7 linked regions of the Homo sapiens genome follow. The protein of the gene in region 3 purifies or fractionates together with the protein of the main gene of each other region. This does not show direct contact. Each region holds a gene or a part of one and is shown on either strand. Other genes may lie near its edges. The genes, in order: ASF1A, DNAJC11, PPTC7, MAOB, ACSF2, MRPL22 and AIFM1.

What was found.
Region 1: the proteins of PPTC7 (region 3) and ASF1A purify together in Homo sapiens (affinity purification with mass spectrometry; 2 studies listed by BioGRID and IntAct, with this or other methods). This does not show direct contact.
Region 2: the proteins of PPTC7 (region 3) and DNAJC11 purify together in Homo sapiens (affinity purification with mass spectrometry; one large-scale study listed by BioGRID and IntAct). This does not show direct contact.
Region 4: the proteins of PPTC7 (region 3) and MAOB purify together in Homo sapiens (affinity purification with mass spectrometry; one large-scale study listed by BioGRID and IntAct). This does not show direct contact.
Region 5: the proteins of PPTC7 (region 3) and ACSF2 purify together in Homo sapiens (affinity purification with mass spectrometry; one large-scale study listed by BioGRID and IntAct). This does not show direct contact.
Region 6: the proteins of PPTC7 (region 3) and MRPL22 purify together in Homo sapiens (affinity purification with mass spectrometry, with the first as the bait; one large-scale study listed by BioGRID). This does not show direct contact.
Region 7: the proteins of PPTC7 (region 3) and AIFM1 purify together in Homo sapiens (affinity purification with mass spectrometry; one large-scale study listed by BioGRID and IntAct). This does not show direct contact.

Annotation. Positions count from the first base shown.
Region 1 is NC_000006.12:118,897,152-118,900,651, forward strand, and holds part of ASF1A (histone chaperone ASF1A), read left to right. Parts: intron 1-3,500. UniProt on the Homo sapiens protein: Histone chaperone that facilitates histone deposition and histone exchange and removal during nucleosome assembly and disassembly.
Region 2 is NC_000001.11:6,691,817-6,695,316, reverse strand, and holds part of DNAJC11 (dnaJ homolog subfamily C member 11), read left to right. Parts: intron 1-3,500.
Region 3 is NC_000012.12:110,538,319-110,541,818, reverse strand, and holds part of PPTC7 (protein phosphatase PTC7 homolog), read left to right. Parts: intron 1-1,873; coding exon 1,874-1,997; intron 1,998-3,063; coding exon of another isoform or gene 3,064-3,090; exon of another isoform or gene 3,091-3,092; intron 3,093-3,500. UniProt on the Homo sapiens protein: Protein phosphatase that plays an essential role in mitochondrial metabolism and biogenesis. Positively regulates biosynthesis of the ubiquinone, coenzyme Q. Dephosphorylates the ubiquinone biosynthesis protein COQ7 which is likely to lead to its activation.
Region 4 is NC_000023.11:43,872,451-43,875,950, reverse strand, and holds part of MAOB (amine oxidase [flavin-containing] B), read left to right. Parts: intron 1-3,500.
Region 5 is NC_000017.11:50,432,718-50,436,217, forward strand, and holds part of ACSF2 (medium-chain acyl-CoA ligase ACSF2, mitochondrial isoform 2 precursor), read left to right. Parts: intron 1-3,500. UniProt on the Homo sapiens protein: Acyl-CoA synthases catalyze the initial reaction in fatty acid metabolism, by forming a thioester with CoA. Has some preference toward medium-chain substrates. Plays a role in adipocyte differentiation.
Region 6 is NC_000005.10:154,947,573-154,951,072, forward strand, and holds part of MRPL22 (large ribosomal subunit protein uL22m), read left to right. Parts: intron 1-3,248; coding exon 3,249-3,366; intron 3,367-3,500.
Region 7 is NC_000023.11:130,134,842-130,138,341, reverse strand, and holds part of AIFM1 (apoptosis-inducing factor 1, mitochondrial isoform AIF precursor), read left to right. Parts: intron 1-301; exon of another isoform or gene 302-816; coding exon of another isoform or gene 817-824; exon of another isoform or gene 825-1,156; coding exon 1,157-1,264; intron 1,265-1,610; coding exon 1,611-1,699; intron 1,700-2,156; coding exon 2,157-2,297; intron 2,298-3,500. UniProt on the Homo sapiens protein: Functions both as NADH oxidoreductase and as regulator of apoptosis.

The sequences.
Region 1 (3,500 bases), on a different chromosome or scaffold from region 3:
TTTGAAAAGAATTTTCTTAATAAGTTATTTTGCCTCAAGTCTCAAAGCAGAGTTTGGCCACCGTTTTTCATACTTTCATCAGTAGCCCCAAACGTTCACTTTCCTTTAAGAGCTGCCCTGTAGCTTTGCTTCAGAAAAAGCCTTGAGGAATATTTGGTCTTAAGATAATTTGGTTCTTTCTAATATAGGGCTTATATCAAGGGTTAAGACAGCCTGAGACCCTGGCTGGATGTGCTTGATGGTCACCAAGACTGTACAAGTTTTGATTGACCATCCTGCCATTCTTAAATTTATATATATATATATCTTAATTACAGCTACTGTCAATTGAATACTTATAATATACCAGAATTGAGCATGGTGCTTCATACTTTCCAACTTCAGCTTGTTCTAATTCCAAAGCCTACATACTTTCCACTAGACCACAGGTCTTCCCAAGTAGTGTAATTAGCTAAAAATTCTCTTGATGACTTCCCTCATTCACTCACTCTTTCACCACAAATGTAAATACTTTCAGGCTGGGTAAATCATTTAATCATGATTACTGTGATTAAATAAAAGTTAACTTTAAAATAAATGAACAAATTTCTTCACCTGAGAACTTATGTAAAACATCTGACCTTACCCTTCCTCCCTCAAATACAGGGGGCAGAGGAATTAAATGAAAGCTGGGTTAAAAAAAAAAACAACAAAAAAACTGATGCCAATGTATAAAAGGGTATTGAGCATGTAAAACTCAGCAACTGTAGCAAGCATCCCATAAACATAAAAATCAATGTACAAGTGTTCCCTGAGTTGCAGCCTGTTCTTGTTAAGGCTAGATTCTCTCTCCATCTCCTCTGCTCTCACTTCCCCTGCAAATAAATTCCCTTATTCCACTGCTAATTTCAGAGCTAGAAAGAATTTATCTTCCCAGTTAGGTTTTCAGAAGAAGCCCGGGGTTTGTAGTTACAGAGGCATAGCTTGGATTCTGATTCTTTGATGTACAAATTATGAATTTGTGTAGATTACTTAACCTCTCAGAGTCTCAAGTTATTTGCATAATGGGGATAATTTGATCTACATGATGAAGCTGTTGAGGTTTAAACAATAGGTATGAAGTAGAACTAATGCCCAGTATATAGTAGGTATTTTCTAAAATAGGTTTATAAATTATGGCTATGTTCCTATGCCAGTCCACAAATGCGAATTTATACCACTTAGGATCAAGGGCATTATATGTAGTGATACAATTATATATGAAATTAAAATTCATGAAAACCTTTATGTAATAATTTTTTTTTTTTTTTTTTGGAGACAATCTCGTTCCATTGCCCAGGCTGGAGTGCAGTGGCGCGATCTCGGCTCACTGCAACCTCCGCCTCCAGGGTTCAGGCGATTCTTGTGCCTCAGCCTCCCGAGTAGCTGGGACCACAGGCATGTGCCACCCCTAATTTTTGTACTTTTAGTAGAGATGGGGTTTCACCATGTTTGCCAGGCTGGTCTCGAACTCCTGACCTCAAGCCATCCAGCCACCTTAGCCTCCCACAATGCTGGGATTACAGGCGTGAGCCACTGCGCCCAGCCACTCTATGTGATAATTCTTAGTCTTATCCTCACTTGGCTAGTTTAGTACCTTTCACATCACTTTCTTAAAACAGTTTCTTCACTTGGCTTTTGGGTCACCTACCTCATTTGCCACTTGTTTTGTAACTTAATTTGTCCTCTTATCTTTGGAGGGCTCAAATCTCACTCCCTAGAGCAAGCCCATGTATTTTTATGGCTTTACATATCATTGACAGGTTCCAAATTTTTATCCTGCCTATTCAGTATCTCTGCTTAGAAGCAGACATCTCAAATATGTCTAAAATGAACTCCTGATTGCTCCCCTACCCCACATCACCTCCCTGCAAAAGTGGCTCCTGCTGCTTTCATCTTCAGGATTTTATCCAGAATATAACTGTTGCACAGCCCCATGGCCACACGAGGTCCATGCCACCATAATTTCTTGCCTCAATTATTGAAATATTGTTTCTTCCCTTGTCCTCTTACACTCTATATTGAACACAGCAATCAAAGCATTCCTTTTAAAATGAAAGTTGGCTCCTGTTACTGCTCTGCTCAAAACCCTTCGATGGCTTCCCATGCCACGCAGTGTGAAAGCCAGAGTCCTTATGATGGCCTTCAAAACCGCATGATCTGGCTGTTCCCCTCATCCTCAATCATAGGGTTTGGTGCTTTCCTCCTTCCTTTCATTCTGCTCCAGCCCTAGCCTCCTTGCTTTTTCTTGCCAAGTGTGCCCTACCCCTGGGCCTTTGTATTTGCTGTTCCCTCTGGCGAGATACTTATATTGCCTACTTCCTCTCTATCTCCATCAACAGATGATCTCAGGAGATGTCAGATGCAGCACCCTGCATCTGGAAGTGTGCTGGAAGCTGGAAATAGAAATGGTTTAGTTCTAGGACAGAGCCATGACATAATAGGTCCTCAGAAAATGATTGCTGACTTAATAAGAGAAAATAAAAAAGGAGCTTTCAGTTGATTGTAGTTTACAATACAATATAAATAAGCAGTACGTTACTATTTCTATTATCAATTTAGGGAACAAAAATATCTACAGTTACACAAAAATGGCCACACATGGTGGCACTAACTAGATTGTCATGAGTGACCCAGAAACTCACCCTTTGGGAGTGCTTGTGTAACAGTGTGTTGAATGCAAGAGGCAGGCCACACAGTGCAAAATACCCAAAGAAGATGAAGAGGTCTCTCAGAGATGGTTTGTATTACAAAGTTATCTTCTTCCTCAGCTAAACAGGAGACTCCTCCAAAGAGTTCTACTCATCTCTGGGTTCACTTCACAGAACACATTGTAAAACATGCTCAGTAAAATCCGCTATATTGAATTACATATAACGCCTTGAATTGCACCTGAATGTCTTTTCCTCCTGCCTATCTCCACTGTGTATACTCTATTGTATCACGTGGTGTAAAGATCTTGGTTTCCTCTGCCCAATTTAAAGAATGTATGACACAGGGGGGTGCCGTAAGGGAAAAACCCTACCATTGTTCGTTGACAGTTGATGAGCTGAAGCCACTTACTTCTGAGCCATGAGGGAGGTTTTACTAATAATTTTTCTACTTTGGAGCTCTGTGATTATTTGGATCTCTGCAGCGTAGTATAGGGCTGCCCTTCCAAAGTGTGTTGAGAAGGGCCTTAAAAGATGATATACAAAAAAAGGGGGATTCCATAGCCAAATAAATTTGGGAAGTGCTGGATTAATGTTACTGGTGTTCTTTACTGAAGGATATCTCAGAAAACTTACTGTGCCAGCATGCTTTATGAATCCTCAAGACAAGGTTTACAGCATTTCCCAAGTGTTTGGCTATGTTATCTTGTTTGTGAGGCACTGTCCAGGAACTAGTGTTTCACAAAAGAGTATTTTGAGAAACTCTGATCAAAGTGTGAACTCTGGTAGGAACTTTATAAGGAGCATTTCACTGCCTTTCTGGATTGCTAT
Region 2 (3,500 bases), on a different chromosome or scaffold from region 3:
TTTAAAAAAAGACATAAGGATTGGGGGGTGGCTCACACCTGTAATTCCAGCACCTTAGGAGGCTAAGGCAGGAGGATAACTTAAGTCCAGGAGTTTGAGACCAGCCTGGGTTGGCATAACGTAGCAAGACTCCATCTTTAATTAAAAAAAAAAATTTTTTTTTTTTTTTTTTTGAGAGAGTCTCGCTCTGTCACCCAGGCTGGAGCGCAGTGGCACAATCTCGGCTCATTGCAAGCTCTGCCATCTGGGTTCACGCCATTCTCCTGCCTCAGCCTCCCGAGTAGCCGGGACTACAGGCACCTGCCACCACGCCCAGCTGATTTTTTTTTTTTTTTTTTTTTTGATTCGGAGTCTCGCTTTGTTGCCCAGGCTGGAGTGCAGTGGTGCGATCTCGGCTTATTGCAAGCTCCGCCTCCCGGGTTCACGCCATTCTCCTGCCTCAGCCTCCTGAGTAGCTGGGGCTACAGGCCCCCACCACCATGCCTGGATAATTTTTTTTTTTTTTTTGTATTTTTAGTAGAGACGGGGTTTCACCGTGTTAGCCAGGATGGTCTCGATCTCCTGACCTTGTGATCCGCCCGCCTCAGCCTCCCAAAGTGCTGCGATTATAGGTGTGAGCCACCGCGCCCAGCCAAAAAAAATTTTTTTTAATTAGCTGGGCATGGTGGCATGAGCTGTAACCTGTAGTCCAGCCTAAGGTGGAGGTGCAGCCGAAAAGCAGGTCAGTTGTTTACCGCATGCAGAGTCCAGTTAACAAGAGTGAGGCGCATACAAAGCCAGTGAATTTACTCTGAAGTCAGCTTGGGGAAGGGGCACGATGTCCTGCTGTACCGCTTCACTTTTAGAGCAGAAAGCAGGCACTTTTATAAGGTATAGGAGGAAATGAGCAAGGGCAGGGGTCCCCCTGCTATCTGGGTACTTTATCTAACTGGCAATTGAGTTGGCATCTTCCTGGGCAGAAAGAAGTAAAAGTGGCCATGGGGACATGATTTGGTCTGCAAATCCACTGTCAAGAGATCCGTCTTGGAGCACGTAGTTAGCTGAACTTGCCCCATAGAAGATGTCTGGTGAGGGGGAGGGGAAAGGTTATATTTGCATTTCTAAAGGGCTAAGTAGGAAGCAGGGTACCGGGGAAAGGGGGAGAGGAGAAAATAATTAAACTATCTCTTAGAAAAAATGGGGCTGGGCATGGTAGCTCATGCCTGTGAATCCCAGCACTTTGGGAGGCTGAGGCCAGCGGATCACTTGAGGTCAGGAGTTCAAGACCCACCTGGCCAGCATGGTGAAACCCCATCTCTACTAAAAATACAAAACTTAGCCAGACTTGATGGCGGGCGCCTGTAATCCCAGCTACTCATAAGGCTGAAGCAGGAGAATCTCTGCTGGGAGGTGGAGGTTGCCGTGAGCAGAGATCGCACCACTGTGCTCCAGCCTGGGCAACAGAGCGAGACTCTGTCTCCAAAAAAAAAAAAAAAAAAAAAATGGGGGTACTTGGTTACAGGAGGATTGCTTGAACCTAGAAGTTTGGGGCTGCAGTGAGCTGCAGTCACACCACCACACTCTAGGCTGGGCGACAGAGCGAGACTTTGTCTATAAAAAGCGAGACTCCGTCTATAAAAATAATAATAAATAAAAGGCTGGGCGTGGTGGCTCATGCCTGTAATCCCAGCACTTTGGGAGGCTGAGGCGGGTGAATCACGAGGTCAGGAGTTCGAGATCAGCCTGGCCAACATGGTGAAACCCTGTCTCTACTAAAAATACAAAAACTAGCTGGGTGTGGTGGTGGGCGTCTGTAATCCCAGCTACTCGGGAGGCTGAGGCAAGAGAATTGGTTGAACCCGGGAGATGGAGTTTGCAGTGAAGCAAGATCGCACCACCACTGCACTCCAGCCTGAGCGACAGAGCAAGAATCCATCTAAACGATAATATAACAATAAATAAAAATGTGAAAGACATACATGTACATAAATAAATTTAAAAATGTGAAAGACATACTTGGTATGCTTCATCCTGGCTAAGGATGAACTTTGCTATCCACTTGTAATATTACTAAAAATCATAGTGCTAGAATGTATGCTAAGCATTAGTTTATGAAATTCCTGAGGTTGGGTGTGGTGGCTCACGCCTTACAGTCCCAACGCTTTGGGAGGCGGAGGCGGGCAGATCACCTGAGGTCAGGAGTTTGAGACCAGCCTTATTAACATGGCGAAACCCTGTCTGTACTAAAAATACGAAAAAAAAAAATTAGCCGGGTGTGGTGATGCTCGCCTGTAATCCCAGCTACTTGGGAGGTTGAGACAGGAGAATTGCTCAAACCCAGGAGGCGGAGGTTGCAGTGAGCCAAGATTGTGCCACTGGACTCCAGCCTGGGCAACAGAGCAAGACTCTGTCAAAGAAAAAAAAAGAGGCTGGGCGCAGTGGCTCATGCCTGTAATCCCAGCACTTTGGGAGGCTGAGGCGGGCAGATCACCTGAAGTCGGGAGTTTGAGACCAGCGTGACCAACATGGAGAAACCCCATCTCTACTAAAAATACAAAAATTAGCCAGGCGTGGTGGCAAATGCCTGTAATCTCAGCTACATGGGAGGCTGAGGCAGGAGATTCACTTGAACCCGGGAGGCAGAGGCTGCAGTGAGCCAAGATCGTGCCATTGCACTCCATCTTGGGCAACAAGAGCAAAACTCCATCTCAAAAAAAAAAAAAAAAAATTCCTGAAGCATTTTTTACTTTCTGTTCAAAACACTGAGTTTGTTCTTTTTAAAAGACAGTGATCTCTCTGAACTTGTGCTTCCTGGAAAGTTGACATGGGGATAGGGAGCTTTCCTGGAAGTTGGGGCTAAGTATGGGAGTAGGGTGCAGGCTCAAGGATAACATTTTTTGGGTGTTTGGGGTAAAGATAGGATAGTTGTGAGCCAAGCAGAGAGGAGGCAGAGCTGGGGGCAGGGGTGGGCCCAAGAGGGTGCCCGGGAAGTGGAGTTTAGAGAAGCTGCCTGTGTGCAGGGAGGGGGCTGTTGAGGATGCCCCACCACTTCCAATGTCATCTCATAATGTGATTGGCAAACGTGAGGTTACATTTCACAATGTGTTTCTTTAATGATCTATAAGCCAGTTATTTTCTGCTTTGGGCATTTCAAACAATTGCTTCTTGAAATGTTAATGCTCTAATTTTGCATTATCTACCAAAACACCTCTTTTATTTTCTTTCTTAAAGAGAATTCAATGGAAAACTTTTGTATTTGCTGTGAATTTAGTAATAAAACAATGGAAAACGGGACATGAGAGCAACATGCTTTGCTTGGCTGTAGAATTTTATTGTCTGCTTTTTATTAACCTTTCATTTTAATTTTACTTACTTACACCTTTGTTTAAGAAAGGATGTAAGACAACAGATGAAAAAATAAAATAGCATATATTTTTTAAAGGAGTCACACATTTCTTAAAAAGAAGACAATTGAGAACATTGCTGCATTATTACCACTGTTACAGCATATGCCTGGTACA
Region 3 (3,500 bases):
AATAAATACCTACGTATGATGACCACTTTGGGACCCTTGGGAGACACAGAGTCCTTACTATGCCAAAATACTGTAGCTATTTCCGGTGAATGTATTCTTTTTTTTTTTTTTTTTTTTTGAGACGGAGTTTAGCTCTCGTTGCCCTAGCTGGAGTGCAATGGTGCAATCTCAGCTCACTGCAACCTCTGCCTCCCAGGTTCAAGTGATTCTCCTGCCTCAGCCTCCCTAGTAGCTGGGATTACAGGCGTGTGCCACCACGCCCAGCTAATTTTTTGTATTTTTGGTAGAAACGGGTTTTAACCAGGCTGGTCTCAAACTCCTGACCTCAGGTGATCCGCCCGCCTTGGCCTCCCAAAGTGCAGGGATTACAAGCGTGAGCCACTGCGACTGGCAAGTGAATGAATTATTTTTTTCCTTTTTCTTTTTCTTTGAGATGGAGTCTCACTCTGTTGCCAGGCTGGAGGGCAGTGGCACGATCTTGGCTCACTGGCTCACTGCAACCTCCATCTCCCGGGTTCAAGCAATTCTCCTGCCTCAGCCTCCTGAATAGCTGGGATCACAAGCGTGTGCCACCACGCCTGGCTAATTTTTTAATTTTTAGTAGAGACGGGGTTTCACCGTGTTGGTCAGGCTGGTCTTGCACTCCTGACCTCAGGTGATCCACCCACCTTGGCCTCCCAAAGTGCTGGGATTACAGGCGTGAGCCACCACACCCAGCAGTGAATGAATTCTTATAAGATTGGCGGCTGGGCGCAGTGGCTCACGCCTGTTATCCCAGCACTTTGAGAGGCCAAGGCGGGCAGATCACGAGGTCAGGAGATCAAGACCATCCTGGCCAACATGGTGAAACCCTGTCTCTACTAAAAATACAAAAAATTAGCCGGGCATGGTTGCGGGCACCTGTAGTCCCAGCTACTCGGGAGGCTGCGCCAGGAGAATGGCGTGAACCCAGGAAGCGGAGCTCGCAGTGAGCCGAGATCGCGCCACTGAACTCCAGCCTGGGCGACAGAGCGAGACTCTGTCTCAAAAAAAAAAAAAAGATTGGCATGTTGTTCTCCACAGGTATTCATCATCCCACCCTCACTATGGCACTCCAGGACCCAGATTCAAATATTCGAGGAAACTGATGAGTGAAATATGTGAATAAGAGGGGGTGGGCTGGGTGGCTGGTGATTACAGTGGCTCATGCCTGTAATCCCAGCACTTTGGGAGGCCGGGGCAGGCGGATCACCTGAGGTCAGGAGTTCAAGACCAGCCTGGCCAACGTGGCAAAACCCTGTCTCTACTAAAAATGTAAAAACAAATTAGGCGTGGTGGTGCATGACTGTGGTCCTACAGGCACTATTTTACATGCCTGTAGTCCCAGCTACTTGGGAGGCTGAGACAGGAGAATCGCTTGAACCCAAGAGGCAGAGGTTGCAGTGAGCCTATATCGTGCCACTGCATTCCAGCCTCGACAACAGAGCGAGACTTGTCTCCAAAAAAAAAAAAAAAAAAGGCGGGGGGGGATGGAATTCGGCTGTAAAGAATTAGGAATAAAGACTCATTTCCACTAGGATTTTAGAGGTGTGTTAGATCTGACTCAGAAGAGGACCCTTCCTCCCTCCTTCTCAGCCACTTGTGACTAATCATCAGACTTGGTTTTACTCGGTAGTTTCAGTTAAAAATTTGAAACATTTATATTAGAATTTTCGATTAACTTTTTTCAGAGTTGGGAATTTCAGAATGACTTTTTTTAAAAATTGACTCCATTATGATAAATCAGTTTTTCTTGCAGAAAGCTTATTACATTGTAAAATAGTGCCTGTAGGACATTTTCAACTCATCTGTAAAGGGCCTTCTTAACTTTGTCCCTCCCCTGTCCTTGCCACAGTCCGGATGCTGCTGATAGCACGTCTTTCGATGTCCAGCTAGGAGACATTATCCTGACGGCAACAGATGGACTCTTTGACAACATGCCTGATTATATGATTCTTCAGGAGCTAAAAAAGTTAAAGGTAATTAACTCAAAGGTTAGCTCTTGGGAAAAGTGGCCCTCTCTGGATAGCTGAGTTTTATGGATTCAGTTGCATTATCTCTTTGTAGTTTTGGAAAGAACTATTTTGTGAATTTCAGGAAAATAATAATAGCTCTGGTCTTTCAAATAATTAGAGCACTTGGAAAAAGAAGCTTCCTACCCAAGGTTTTCATAGGCTGGTAGAAGTAGGAAAAGTCTAGATGGAGGGCATTTCTTGTTTGTATCTTTATTTATATTTTAATGGTGTCGGGTCCTGGTTGTTTCTCCTTTTATTCTTCTAACACCCAGCAGGTGTTGAATCAGGCAAAGACAGGAAATAGTCATGCCAGAGCCAGCCAAAGGCAGCAGGCCACTGGAAGCCTCAGTGTGACCTGAGCTGCCACCAGTAACCAAATAGTATGGGTTTCTCCCATAGAGGAAGGAGGTGAAACTAGGCTTTCAATTTTTTCCTGGCTTTGTGAACATACTCTGGGAAAAATGAGTCTTTTTCTCATGAGTCTTTACCTCTAACCAGTATGACTTTGGGTACGTTTCTTTCTTTTTTTTATTATTTATTGAAGTTGCTGAGATCTGAGGGTTTCTTAAAACTGTTTAAGCAGTATTTTCTTCATATAAAATGGGGCATCCTAAAGATCCTCTTTTATAGGGTTGCAGTGAGGATTAACTACAGCCCTGTGTAGGAACTCCTTAGCGCCACGCCTTGTCTGTGGAGTGCAGTCAGTGTGAGGTGCTTCCTTGTCACAGGCACCGTGCTCTGTGTGGTGACACAGTGGTGAGCAGAATCTACACAGTCCCTACCTGTATGGAACTTACATCCTAGTGGAGGAAAATAGATAAATACAGGGAAGTAAATCTATGATGTAATGTGGGTGCTAAATAAGAAAAACAAAGCTGGATAAGGGAATAGAGAGTAGAAGGGACTGCTACTACTTTAGATAGATTGGTCAGGAAGGGCCTTTTTGAGGAGGTGACATTGAAGCAGAGACCTGTCATTATACTGAAACTAGAGCTGAAGTGGACCTCGTGTTCCCATCCCCGTTTTGCAGATGAGGAAGTTGGAGCAGCAAGGATAAAGGTATGGCCCAAGATTTCACAGCTCGACAGGAATCTCTTCCTGATATAAAATTCTGAAGGTATTTTCACTAGAGCAACTGGTAGCTCTTGGAGAGCAAACTGGGGTTGGCCAGGCTGTGTTCCTAAGCAAGGAAGCTTTTGAGGTATCCTTCAAAGGCTATCAGAATCTGCCTTTTCAGTTCATCCTATTTTAGCAAGAATACCTTAAGAATTTCAAATGGGAAAAAAAGCAAAAATGAAAATCCAAACTTTAGGGCTTAAGGCCACCAAAGCAAAGGACTTTCTGATTGATACCTTGTGCAGGCAGCACTGGAGTCTTGTTCATATTAGCCAGGGCATGATGTTTTAATGTCTTTTCTAACTAGAATAAAACTTACATGATGGAAAAGGTGGTTAGATAAATGTTACT
Region 4 (3,500 bases), on a different chromosome or scaffold from region 3:
AAATGTGGTTATTAATTCTTCAATTTATCCTTCTGCAAAAGATGCCCTGCTAGATATCAAAAGCTCTTTCAAAGAGCTTGTCTCTTCAATTTGTCTTGGTACTTCTTCAGCCAAGTTTCTTCAATTTTTCTTGGTACTTGAAAAGCGGGTGAGTGTTCCTGGGCTAACTCCTAGAATTCTCAATAAATGTTAACTTTGTTATTTGTACAAGTCACTGGGCAGTACTCAATTGAGGGCACCCTGGAATCATGCAAGATCGAATACCCTTGAAGGGTGCAAAAGTGAGCCAAATTGAGGGGCCACGTTCAGGTGTAATATGTGTCTGAAGAACGAGTGTTTTCAGCCCCACAAGAGAATGCTTTGGAAATTTGCTCAGGTTAAATGTGTACCATTGTGCTTTTGCAAGAATCTCATTCGCTGGGCTTAACTTATTAGTAGTGTGTCTGCATAAAAGTTGTTATTTCCCCTAAGAGGAGGCCATAATGGTATAAAATTCCTTCCTGATTTTGAATATTCAAGGAACAAACTTAGAAGACCAAGCTAAAAAATACTTTGGTTTAATAGAATCATTGGTGACTGAAGACGGAAGCATCTTTAGAGTTTTACCTACTAGTTAAGATCGCCTGGTTTTGCATCCAAGAAAAAGCACATTTAGAGAGTGCAAAGGGCTGGCTCCAGACCTCACAGCCCCTTCTTTTGAATAAAATTATTGTCCTGGAGGATGAGCCCTCAGCCTTAGGAGAAAATGCAAACAGAAGGACAACCTGATCAAATGGTGCTGGGTGAGAGGTTAGAATCACTAATACTTTGAATGCACTATTTCTACTTTCTGTTTTCATGCTCACAAAATGGATCCATCTTTGGCCTCCTCTGTTAACTCAGTAAATAAAGATACAGAAAGCCAAGTCCCTGTTAGCAATGTTTCCTAAGTCAGCATGCATTTATTTACTGAAGGAAGGTATAGAAAAAGAGTAAGACTAAGTTCCCAGCCTCAGGAAACTTAAAATGCAGATGGAGACACAAGACTAGCACATACATGCAATAAGGAACAATTAAACTAATGTATAATTGAATTCTGAACTGTGGGACCCAAGGACTAAGTTAGAAGAATCATTAAAGACCCCAGGAGTTGGAGAAGGTCTCATTAAGGGAGTAGAATTTAACAGATTCTGAAGAACAGTCCAGGTTTGGGAGGGTAGAGAAGAGAGAGGCTTTAAAGATGAGAAGAATCATTTAAATCATAGGGCCAGAGACTTCAGTTAGCAGGTGATCTTTATATTTACAGGACAGTAGAAAGTCCAGCTTGTCTAGAATAAAAGGAAGGGGAGACATGGGAAGGAAAGTTAGTAGGAGGGGGGCAGGATCCAAAAACGAGCAATTGAAAAACAAAGTGAAAAGTTAGGTTTTCCTGTGGTAAGAAATAGGGAGCCATTGACAGTTTATACTATAAAGATAAGGTGGATGGTCGTGTGCCTGATAACCAGGGAAGCCAAAACATGGATAGAAATTCAGGAAAGGATTGAGAGGTGATCAGCTGATTATAATGTATTGGGTTATTCTGAATGCCCAAGGGAGGTTTCAAGAGAAATGGGGATAGAAAGAAGGGAAGAATGAGTAGAAGGAGGTGTCCAAAGTTGCACTTGGCTTTCTTCACTGTCTTGCTGGCAGCCTATCCAGAAAAGAAGTATCACAAACAATAATTAGTTGTAATTTAATGAAGTTGTAGGCACTCCATAAAACATTTACCACTGTTACTATTGCCACCTATATTTTATTTTTGCAAACTTCCCTCCAAAGTTTTATCATTGGGATTGAAGGACTTGACTGTATTTACATTTTTTCTTCTTTAAAAAACTAAAAACAGAGATTTTCTTCCCAAGGGCTGTGACCCAGTTTACTAAATGATAAAACGTGTATCTCTGGCAATCTCAAACACAAAATGAATAGTTCATCTTATTTGTTATATAAAAACTGTCGGCCGGGTGCAGTGGCTCACACCTGTAATCCCAGCACTTTGGGAAGCCGAGGCGGGCGGATCGCGAGGTCAGGAGACCGAGCCCATCCTGGCCAACATGAAGAAACCCTGTCTCTACTAAAAATACAAAAATTAGCCGGGCGTGGTGGTGGGCGCCTGTAGTCCCAGCTACTCGGGAGGCTGAGGCAGGAGAATCGCTTGAACCAGGGAGGCGGAGGTTGCAGTGAGCCGAGATGGCACTACTGCACTCCAGCCTGGCGACAGAGACAGACTCCATCTCAAAAACAAACAAGCAAACAAAAACGAACAAAAATGTCATTTAAACCTTTTGTTTTGTGAGAGAGGGGCACCATCAGAAAACATCTTCAGGTAGGTCTGACCTTTCAAATGTTAGTCATCTTACCATAGTCTCCATTTAATGGCATCTTAAATGTCATATACTATCTAATTTCCACTTCATATCTGAAATTTGAGCTCTTGATCTTATGTTATGCATCTCTTAGCTAGGCCATTTTTAATTCTACTCTCCTCCTCAATAACATTTATCAGAATTACACAATGATGAAAATGTCCTACTAGATACTTAGTTTTATTTGCTCTCCTTCTAGCCTAAATAATCGTCCCTTTTGCTTAACCTCTCCAACATTTTTAATGATTCTTTTAATTGAATTTGGAATCCTTACTTCATATTTTGAAGTTGGGCTACTTTTTATTGCTGTGATCCCAGTGGTGTGTGTGTATTAAATTGTGTATTGATAATTATGTCTTTAGTTATATCTCATTTCTTTGGGTTATTTTCCAGTTTTCTACATTAAAGAAACAAGCTCATTGGAAGAGCTTTTGTTATCCAGCAAAGCATCTTTTTTCAGAAGGATAAAGTTAAGAATTAATAACCAATTTAGTTAATAACCAAAATTACTTCAAACATTTGGTAAGAAGAAAGGCCACTGATAGAAATGAAAGATGCAATCACATTCCATCTTGATGATCTACAGTTTGAGGACATTTTTTAGAGAGGTGTGAGTATCTTTTTTAATAGCATGAATGCAGAAATAATAAACATTTGTTGTGAAAATCTGTAAATTATAGAAAATGGCAAAAAGAAAATGAAAATCATCCATAATTGAACTCCATAAAATATTTACCACTGTTACTATTGCCACCTATATTTTCTTTATGCAAACTTTATGTTGTATTTACTGTACTTATTTGTATCCCCTTTAAAAATAAATACCAACATGTTATGAATGTTTACCTATGTCTTAAATGTTTTTTCATGATTTTATAACATTAGTTCATATGATTGTATCACAACTTGTTGAATCAATCTCCTATTGCTGAACATTTGTGTTTTTTTCAAACTTTCTGCTATTTTCAACAAAGCTGTTATGAACCTAAATTGTTGTACATAATTCTGATTGTTTCTTTAGGAAATTTCCAGAGATAAATGTTAGAAATTCTTTTAAGGCATTTAATAATTATAGCAAAATTGTCGCCCAAGAAAGTTTTACCAATTTACCTTATG
Region 5 (3,500 bases), on a different chromosome or scaffold from region 3:
CCTCCATTTGGGAGTTAGTTGACGGGAAAGCAAATCCCAGTCCTACCAGTCCTAACTTAGTGTGGCTTTAGGCAAGTTACTGAACCTCCGCAGACCTTAGTTTGTTTGTAAAATAGGCTGTTTGGACAAGATGTGCTCTACCTTTGGGAGAAGATTCTGTGATTCCTAAAGAGGCTGGAGTTTGAGCCTGATCCCTAAACCCAATAAGGCTGTGATTTGAAGTATGCAGCCTTCATACGTGTGTGAAATTTCACTTGGTCTCTTATGAACCCTGAGTATGCAGCTTCCTAACCTGACATTCTGTAATTCTGTAGTCCCCTGAGCAAAAAGAAGCATCAAGTTTTGTTTTATACACACACACGCACACACACACTTAAATATGTTTTTCTTTTTCTTTTTTTTTTTTTTGAGACGGAGTCTCGCACTATCACCAGGCTGGAGTACAGTGGCGCGATCTGGGCTCACTGTAACCTCCGCCTCCTGGGTTCAGCAATTCTCCTGCCTCAGCCTCCCAAGTAGCTGGGATTACAGACACCTGCCACCACGCCCAGCTAATTTTTTGTATTTTTAGTGGAGATGGGGTTTCACTATGTTGGCCAGGCTGGTCTCAAACTCCTGACCTCGTGATCCGCCTGCCTTGGCCTTCCAAAATGCTGGGATTACTGGACTCAAACAATCCTACTTCCTCAGCCTCCTGAGTAGCTGGGATTACAAGCACAAACCACCATGTGCACCTGGCTACCTCAAAGGTTTTCTTCCTAGAAAACTAATATCTAGCCTTGTATGTATTTTAGTAATCCTATCAAGGGACAAGTGTCTTGACTCAGCCCCCATCCCTGATTCCTAGGCACTCTTCTCCTGGGGTCTCTGTCCAGCTATTCCAAAAGAAAACCTGCAGCATGGATGCCTCCTGACTCCAAGTATTTCAGGCTACTCTGTCACCTGGGATGGAGTGCAGTGGCGTGATCACGGCTCACTGTAGCCTTGACCTCCCAGTCTCAGGTGATGTGCCCACCTCTGCCTCCCAAATAGCTGGGATTACAGGTGTGTACCACCATGCCTTGCTAAATTTTTTGTATTTTGTTTTGGTAGAGACAGATTTCCACTTTGTTGCCCCAGGTGGTCTCAAACTGCTGGGCTCAAGCGATCCTCCCAACTCAGCCTCCCAAAGTGCTGGGATTACAGGTGTGACCCACCGCACTGGCCCTTCTATGTCTTCTTGAGAGAGTTTTCTAAACCCAAATTATCACTTCTTATGTATTTTCTGTACATACTTACAAACACACCAGTGGTTCCATTCAAGATGCTGAAAATGGGCCAGGCACAGTGGCTCACACCTATAACTCAGCACTTTGGGAGGCTGAGGTGGGAGGATCGCTTGAGCCCAGAAGTTTGAGACCAGCCTGGGCAACATAGGGAGACCCCATCTCTACAGATAATACTTTTTACAAATTAGTTGGGTGTGGTGGCATGTGCTTGTGGTTCCAGCTTCCTGGGGGACTGAGGCAGGAGGATTGCTTGAGCCCAGGAAGTCGAGGCTGCAGTGAGCCGTGATCATGCCACCACACTCTAGCCTCAGTGACAGGGTGAGAGCATGTCTCAAATAATAATAATAATAATAACAAAACAAGATGCTGAGAATGGAAGCTTCCACCAATATAGAGTATCTTGTTCAAAATCTTTACTGGGCTGGGTGCGGTGGCTCATGCCTGCAATCCCAGCACTTTGGGAGGCTGAGGCAGGTGGATCACCTGAGGTCAGGAGTTCAAGACCAGCCTGGCCAACATGACGAAAACCCATCTCTACTAAAAATACAAAATTAGCTGGGCATGGTGGCATGCACCTGTAATCCCAGCTACTCGGGAGGCTGAGGCAGGAGAATCTCTTGAACCCAGTGGGTGGAGGTTGCAGTGATCCGAGATAGCACCACCTCATTCCAGCCTGGGCAAAAGAGCAAAACTCCGTCTCAAAAAAATAATTTTTTTTTTTTTTACTGTAGTCCTTACTAGTCTTTGTAGTCGTTTGTAGTTTGTTCTTTGTAGTTGGTATTTTTCAGAGGTCACATACTCCTCAGGGTGGTTATGTCGAGTGGTAGAAAGATCATGGGGCTTTATGATATAATTACATACAGTAAACTGCACAGATCTTTTTTTTTTCTTTTTTTTATTTTGAGACAGAGTTTCACTGTTGTTGCCCAGGCTGGAGTGCAATGGCGCAATCTTGGCTCATCACAACCTCCGCCTCCCAGGTTCATGCGATTCTCCTGCCTCAGCCTCCCAAGTAGCTGGGATTACCCGCATGTGCCACCACGCCTGACTTATTTTGTATTTTTAGTAGAGATGGGATTTCTCCATGTTGGTCAAGCTGGTCTCAAACTCCCGACCTCAGGTGATTTGCCCGTCTCGGCCTCCCAAAGTGCTGGGATTACAGGCGTGAGCCACCGTGCCTGGCCTGTGTCTGGCTTTTTTTGCTCAGAAGCCAAGGAGTGCTTTTGGGAGGAGCAGCTCATTAACCTTGACAAAAACTCACAAAAGTGAGTTTTACGTATTAAACAGCTCAATGTTTCAGAGTTCTGTATGTATTCTAGTATTATTCCTTTGTCAGACATGTGGCTTACAAATGTTTTTCCCCACTTTGTAGCTTTTTTTCATCCTCTTAAAAGGGTCTTTTGCAGAGCAAAATTTTTTAATCCTTTTTTTTTTTTAATTTTTTGAGAAAGGCCTCACTCTGTCACCCTGGCTGGAGCACAGTGGTGCAACCACGGCTCAGTGCAGCCTCAACCTCCTGGGCTCAAGTGATCCTCCTGCCTCAGCCTTCCAAGTACGTAGGACTATGGGTACACGCCACAAAGCCCAGCTAATTTAAAAAATTTTTTCATAGAGATGGATGGCACTGTGTTGCCTAGGCTGGTCTCCAACTCCTGTGCTCAAGTGATTTTCCCACCTCAGCCTCCCAAAGTGCTAAGATTACTTTACAGACGTGAGCCACTATGCCCAGCCCATATAGCAATTTAAAAAAATTTTTTTATAAAGTCTAATTTATTAAGTCTAGTTTATAAAGTCTAGTTTAGTGAGTTTTTTTTTTTAGATGGGATCTCATTATGTTGCCCAGGCTGGTCTCCAACTCCTCGGTTCAAGCAATTCTCCTGCCTCAGCCTCCCAAGTAGCTAGGATTACAGGTGCATGCCACTGCACCCAGCGCTCAGTGAGTGTTTTTTTTTGTTGTTTGTTTGTTTTTAATGGATCTTGCTTTTGGTGTCAAGCCTAATAACTTTTTGCCTAGCTCTAGATCCAGAAGATTTTATAATTTTTTTTTACACTTAAGTCTGATTCATTTTATTTTTGCTTATATAGAATGTGAGACTTAGTCAGAGTTCATTTTTGTTGTTGTTGTTGTTGTTATTTTTTATTTTTTTTATTTTTTATTTTTCGAGACGGAGTCTCGCTCTGTTGCCCAGGCTGGAGTGCAGTGGCGCGATCTCGGCTCACTGCAACCTCCGC
Region 6 (3,500 bases), on a different chromosome or scaffold from region 3:
ATATTTGTATGAGAATATGCCAATATACAACCACTTTGAGTATATAAGTCTGAGTTAAATGTTTACGCAGTATCCACGTACCAGACATTGTTCTTGGTGCTAGAATACAAAGAAAGTCGGACTTGCCCTTTAAATGCTCAACATCTGTACACTTAGTACAATAACTCATTCTATTATAGCCACTTACGATAGTACAGTGGTCTAAGTCATTGCTGTATGGCTGGCAAGAACAAAGTATTAAGACAACGCGAGAATCATGATCAGATAAGGGATTAGGTGATGTTTCACATTGAGGTGACATTTGAGCTAGAACTTAAAACAGGATAAGCATTTCATTCAGGAGATAATAAGACGAGAAAACAATTTGAATAAAGGCTTGTTCAGGGAACAATGAACATCTATGTGGCTAGGCTATAAGGGCAGATTGGGTCTAGATTATGAAAGGCCTTCTATGTCTCGCTAAAGAGTCTGGACTTCGTATTGTGGGCAGTAGGGAAATACCAAAGTTTGCTGTGTTAACTTTTTATTTGGATATGCCCAGACATATACAAAAGTAGACAGTTTGATGAACCTCCATGTATCCGTCACCCAACTTCAACACTTACTACTTATGGCCAATGTTATTTATAACCTGTACTCTCCCTCATCATATTTTGAAACACTCCCCCCACTGTATCATTTTCATAAATATTTTACTATTATCTCATTAAAAAGCATTAAATATCCATTTGATATTTAAACTTCCAATGGCTTCGTAACTGTCATACTTTATAATAGTTCACACATTGAAACTAATTGATATTTCTGTTAAATCTCTTACTCTGTAGGTTTTTTATTCAACCCTCTCTTTTTTTTCTTGTAATTTATTTGTTGGAGACAATTGGTTGTTTTGTAGCGTTTTCTATACCTTGGATTTTACCGAGTGCATCCCCATGATATTACGTAACATGTTGTCTTTTCTCTGTGTTTCCTATTTTGAATCTAGGGGCTTGAGCCCCCAGTTTCATTTTGGGCAGGAAAGACTACTTTGTGGATGGTGGGTGGTGTGTTCTTCCATAAGGAGGCACATAATGCCTCCTTTATCCATTAGTTTATTAAGGATTATAAGATGATGCTATAATAATTTGCTATTCCTTCATTACTAACTTTATACAAGTCAAATTTTTCCTCATCTACTACTTGGAAACTTAATGGTACAGTTTGTATAGGAAAGACAGGATAAGTCTTGTCTTTTTCTTCATTCTTTCTCTTCATTCACCAGTTTTCAAAATAACAAGTTGGCTCACTAGCATTTTCTAATGGTAATTAATTTGTATTTTTCCTGGTTTTATTATGAACTTATGGCTTTAAACATATTTGATGTGTTTCAACCCACTACAATTATTGTCCTGATTAATGCTTGGCTTGTCCCATCTTTGGCTTGTTGGGCATCCACAAGTTGGCTCCTGAGTGCCTTTGACATGACCTTGGTAATCTTTGATGGCTTCTTTGCTTTCTGATATGACAAGATGTTCTGGGCTCATTTTGTATGTTATCTGCTTGAGATCTGCAATCAGCCATTTCTCTCAGAAGTTTTGGTTCTCTTCAATAGGAAATGGTATTTCAAGACCGTAATCTGGGAAGTAGGGGCACTAATTGCTACTAGATTGTTCATTGCTTCTACACCTCTTCAGTGGAGAGATCTAGTACTTATTGGATTTTGGCTGAACCTTTTCTGCTTATTTCCATACCAAGAATCCCAGTAGTCAGTGACACTGAAAAAAAAGGATAGCATTAGAATATTACATAACTATTCATTTGCTTATTTCAATAGACGTTTTTAAGCTGGAGGATGACATGAGTAGCTCTGAATTATAGAAGGGTAGCTCATTTGGTACTCAAGCAGAGAAAGATGGATTGGAATTGGGCAAGTTGATGGAAGAGAAATCAATCTAGAGGCTATTGCTATATAGGATGGTGGCAATTAGAATGGGGAAGAGGTAAAGCATTTGAGAACGATTTCAGGGGAATCTTTATTTTATCTGTAAGATTTGGTGACTAGCTCTGGCAGGATGAAAATCATTGGGAAGTTGAAGATAAACTCTAGAACACCATTCAAGAGTGATTTTATTTAGTGATATAGGGGAGTAGCGGATGCTGGGGAAAATGGGAGAGGGAGAATGACTAGTTGTATATTATTAAAGCAGTTAAAGTGTGGGGGAAGAGGTCAAGGAATAGTGAATTTGGGATCTTCATCATCAAGTCTCAGCCTATTAGTTTAGCATTCAAAGACAACCACTCTAGCCTCAATGACCTTTCCAATACTTAACAAATTCTCTGACTCAGTCAGACCTCCCCTTATTTCTCAACTCTGTACCTCTGCATAGATGATATATGTCGTTGCCCCATTCCTCTGATAATTAGTGTATTAGTCCATTTCACACTGCTATAAAGATACTACCTGAGACTGGGTAACTCATAAACCAACAAGGTTTGATTGACTCACAGTTCTGCGTGGCTGGGGATGCCTCAGGAGACTTAGAATCATAGGGGAAGGTGAAGGGGAAGCAGGCAACTTTTTCACAAGGCAGCAGGAGAGAGAGACAGTGCAGGGAAACTGCCACTTTTAAACCATCAGATCTCATGAGAACTCCCTCACTATCACGAGAACAGCATGGGGGAAACTGCCCAGCGATCTAATCACCTCCCACCAGGTCCCTCCCTCAACATGTATGGATTACAATTGAAGATGAGATTTGGGTGGGACACAGAGCCGAGCCATATCAATTAGGAAGTTCAAGATTCACCTGAAGTCACCTCTGAAATCCTCTGCTGTTTCCCATATTTTAGTTATGTGGTTTTATATTGTCTTCTAATTGTTTTGTGTTTTTGTCTTAGTTACTCAACAAAGTTGGGCAATCTTACAGGTCAGATCAGAGAGCTCATTATGTCTTCTCTAAATCTTTCTTAGGAGTGGGTGACTTATAGAAGACAGTGTTATTGGCCAGTCAGGGCAAGAAATCTTGGGTTAATATCTATTAACGGTTTGACTTATGTGCGTTTACTTTCTCTCCTGTTAGCCTCTAATAAACTGTCTCTTTGTTGTGTTTAAAAGTAGTCTCTATTAATGAATACCTCTAGAATATTTCCAGTTGTGATCCTTAAATTGTTTTCATCAAAATGGAGCTGAAGTGGTTCAAAAGATATGTAAACTCTACAGAAAGGTCCCCTAAGTGTCTGTTGTTTTATAGGCTTCTTTCATTTCACAGTGTTTTACCTCAATCATATATCCACACAAGTGCTTCTCTTGACATTTCTCGAAAATGGGAGAAGAAGAATAAAATTGTTTATCCTCCACAACTGCCTGGAGAACCTCGGAGACCAGCAGTAAGTTCGTGGGTAGAACTAATCTCTTAATTGTGGTAGTGCTCTTACTCTTAAGTGATTAGTAATGATTTATTATTCTGTGTTAAAAAAATTATACAACCATTCACTCTAATTGACAGAGAAGATGTACTAGA
Region 7 (3,500 bases), on a different chromosome or scaffold from region 3:
AGGCGCCTGTAACCACGCCTGGCTAATTTTTTGTATTTTTAGTAGAGATGGGGTTTCACCGTGTTAGCCAGGACTGTCTCGATCTCCTGACCTGGTGATCCGCCCACCTTGGCCTCCCAAAGTGCTGGGATTACAGGCGTGAGCCACCACACCCAGCCTAATTAAGGTTTATATAGTGAAAAGCTAAACACTGAGATTAGTTCTGGTGAGGGATCCCTTGGTGACCAAAAAGCTGTCACCTGAGCAACTTAACAGCGATGCTTTTTTTTTTTTTTTTTTGAGATGGAGTTTCACTCTTGTTGCCCAGGCTGGAGTGCAATGGTGTGATCTCTGCTCACCACAACCTCCGCCTCCCAGGTTCAAGCGATTCTCCTGTCTCAGCCTCTGGAGTAGCTGGGATTACAGGCATGCACCACCACACCTGGCTAATTTTGTATTTTTGGTAGAGACAGGGTTTCTCCATGTTGGTCAGGCTGGTCTTGAACTCCCAACCTCAGGTGATCCACCCACCTCGGCCACCCAAAGTGCTGGGATTATAGGTGTGAGTCACTGCACCTGGCCAACAGCAATACTTTCTTTCCTTTCTTTTCCTCTACCCTCTATGCCAGGACTCCTTAGAAATAAAATATTAAGGAAAGTGAGTTATGAAGATGATAAGGGCAATGCAGACTACAGAATTATGGGTGTCTTTGAACTGCTGCTTCCTGTAAAATGCCAAAAACTTCTTTGGGCACATGATGGTTCCCAGCTTGAGAGATCTGTGAGCTCCAGTTGGAATGTTTCATGGCAACTAGTTTTCTTAATGTTCTTTTTCAGATATATGAAATCAGGGCATCTTTTCAGGAGGATGCTTCCTATTCAGAGGTTGCAAAGCACTTATGTAAGCCTTAGGTGACTGCATGGGTGGAAGTGCACAGAGTTCACCATCTGAAGCTTAATCTGGGGCCAGCAGTTCTGATACCTGTTGTATTTGCGTTACAAATGAACTTGAGCACCGAGGCCCTCATGCCCACTGTCCTGTAAGTGGGCGCTCGGCCTGGATTGCAGCTCTGCCCTGTCTGTAGTGAGGGCTGCCTGCTGCTCCTTTACTTCTCTTCCTGTATTCCTAGGATTGACTTTTGCTTCCTGCTGTAACTACTCTGTTTCTTCTTCCCAGCTCGAGCCTTGGGCACAGAAGTGATTCAACTCTTCCCCGAGAAAGGAAATATGGGAAAGATCCTCCCCGAATACCTCAGCAACTGGACCATGGAAAAAGTCAGACGAGGTAGAGAGACTGTTTCTATATGCTGCCACTCTATTTCCTTTGAGTGTGACCTAAGGCAAACTTCGCTTCTATAGGAACCCCCTTGACATAAGCCCTATCACCTGGCCTGTAAAATGTTTCCACCATTCTCCAGTCAGCTAAGTTCATCTAGGTGTTCTGAATCAGATGCCCCAAATTCCTGGAAGTGCTGAAAATGAACCATGGGTGTAGGTTCTTGCAGCTCTCCAAAACTGCCTGTGTACTGATAATTGGTTTTACCGTGGAGGAGACCGCTGGTCAGCTTTCCTACTTCCCATGAAAGTGATAGCCTTGTAGGCTCACTCTCAGGTCTTGTTTGCCTTTACAGAGGGGGTTAAGGTGATGCCCAATGCTATTGTGCAATCCGTTGGAGTCAGCAGTGGCAAGTTACTTATCAAGCTGAAAGACGGCAGGAAGGTAAGGAAGGAAAAGATAGTCTGCCAAGAGGCCTTCCAGTTCTCCACTCCCCTTGCCTCATTTTTACTCCTTCATTTGACACCAGTAGATTAGTTTTCCTGGCAGTTGCCATTAACCTGATATAATTTTCCGAATTAACCATCCCTCCATTAAAACAGAATGATGAGAGCCAGAGTAGGCTCCTGTGAACCACTTTCCCTTAGCCCCATTCTATCTGTCTCACAGAGTTTTGAGTCCTGGCTAGGGTGGCAGATTTCTGTTCGAATGACATGGGGGATGTGCATGGGATGGGGTGGTGGAGGCTTATGAAATAGAACTTAAAATCCATTTATCAGAGGTAAGTTAACCCATGATTTTTTAAAGTCCCAATTCTTAATGGCATGAAGGGCCATTGTTACGCCTGTAGGCATAAATGGAAACTGTGGTAATTGACTGAATTATTTCTTTTTTGCCTCAGGTAGAAACTGACCACATAGTGGCAGCTGTGGGCCTGGAGCCCAATGTTGAGTTGGCCAAGACTGGTGGCCTGGAAATAGACTCAGATTTTGGTGGCTTCCGGGTAAATGCAGAGCTACAAGCACGCTCTAACATCTGGGTGGTAAGTGTGCTACAGCATGACCAGGCATAATTCATTCTCCCTAGCCTGTGAACAAGTCTGCCCGGTGGTGTGCTAAAGCTCATCAACAGCCTAACCAAATAGGGTCAGAGTGTTTGGAGGCTGAGGGTACAGAATAGAAATGTGTGAACTGCTTGATTCAGAAGACCAGGTATGGCCTCATCTGCAAGCTAGTGGCAGATGAAATGAACAGTGTGCATGCCTGCAGGGGTAGAGCTCTTCCGGTTCTACTTATTGGCAGCAGCTACTGGCATAACCCCTGGTGGGCATGCACATAAGCCTTCAGATGGATCTGCTGTTCCCTTTGCTCAAACTTGAATCCGGAGGATGGAGGATGAAGCAATGTTATAACCTGTTCCCTAGAAAGGAAAATTACTCTGTTTTCATTTTCCTTGAGTACTATTTTTAGCTGTTTTTTACAATCTATTATGACATAAACAAGACTATAGTATGTAGGAACCATGAGGTAATTTCCCCATTGCTAGTTACAAGTGTATTGTGTTTGTTTATGGACTCTGCAACTAAGGACGTAGGTACCTTGGAGGAATTTTTTTCCCCCTCCAAACCTTGTTTTTTTTTTTTTTTTTAAAAAAAAAAAGATGTACTGGATCTTTTTAACCTGTTATAAAAGTAATACGTGGGCCAGGAGAAGTGGCTTACACCTGTAATCCCAGCACTTTGGGAGGCTGAGGCAGGTGGATCACTTGAGATCAGGAGTTTGAGACCAGCCTGGCTAACATGGTGAAACCCTGTCTCTCCTAAAAATACAAAAATTAGCCGGGTGTGGTGGCACAGGCCTGTAATCCCAGCTACTTGGGAGGCTGAGTGAGGCAGGAGAATCACTTGAACTAAGGAGGCAGAGGCTGCAGTGAGTGGAGATCATGCCACTGCCCTCCAGCCTGGGCAACAACAGAGCAAGACTCAGTCTCAAAAAAAAAAAAAAAGTAATATGTGGTCAATGTAGAAGACAGACAAGAAGGAGAGAGGAGAGGAAAGTCACCTGCAGCAACCATTAATATTTTGGTGTATTTCCTTCCCTGTGTTTCCTTGCATGTAGGTTTTATTGTTGGTTTGTTTTATTCGTGGCAAGCATACTATATATAATATTCTGCTCTTTTCCACTTAACACCATAAATGTAAGCATTTTCTATGTTGCTTCAGACTTTGTAAACAGTTTAATGACTA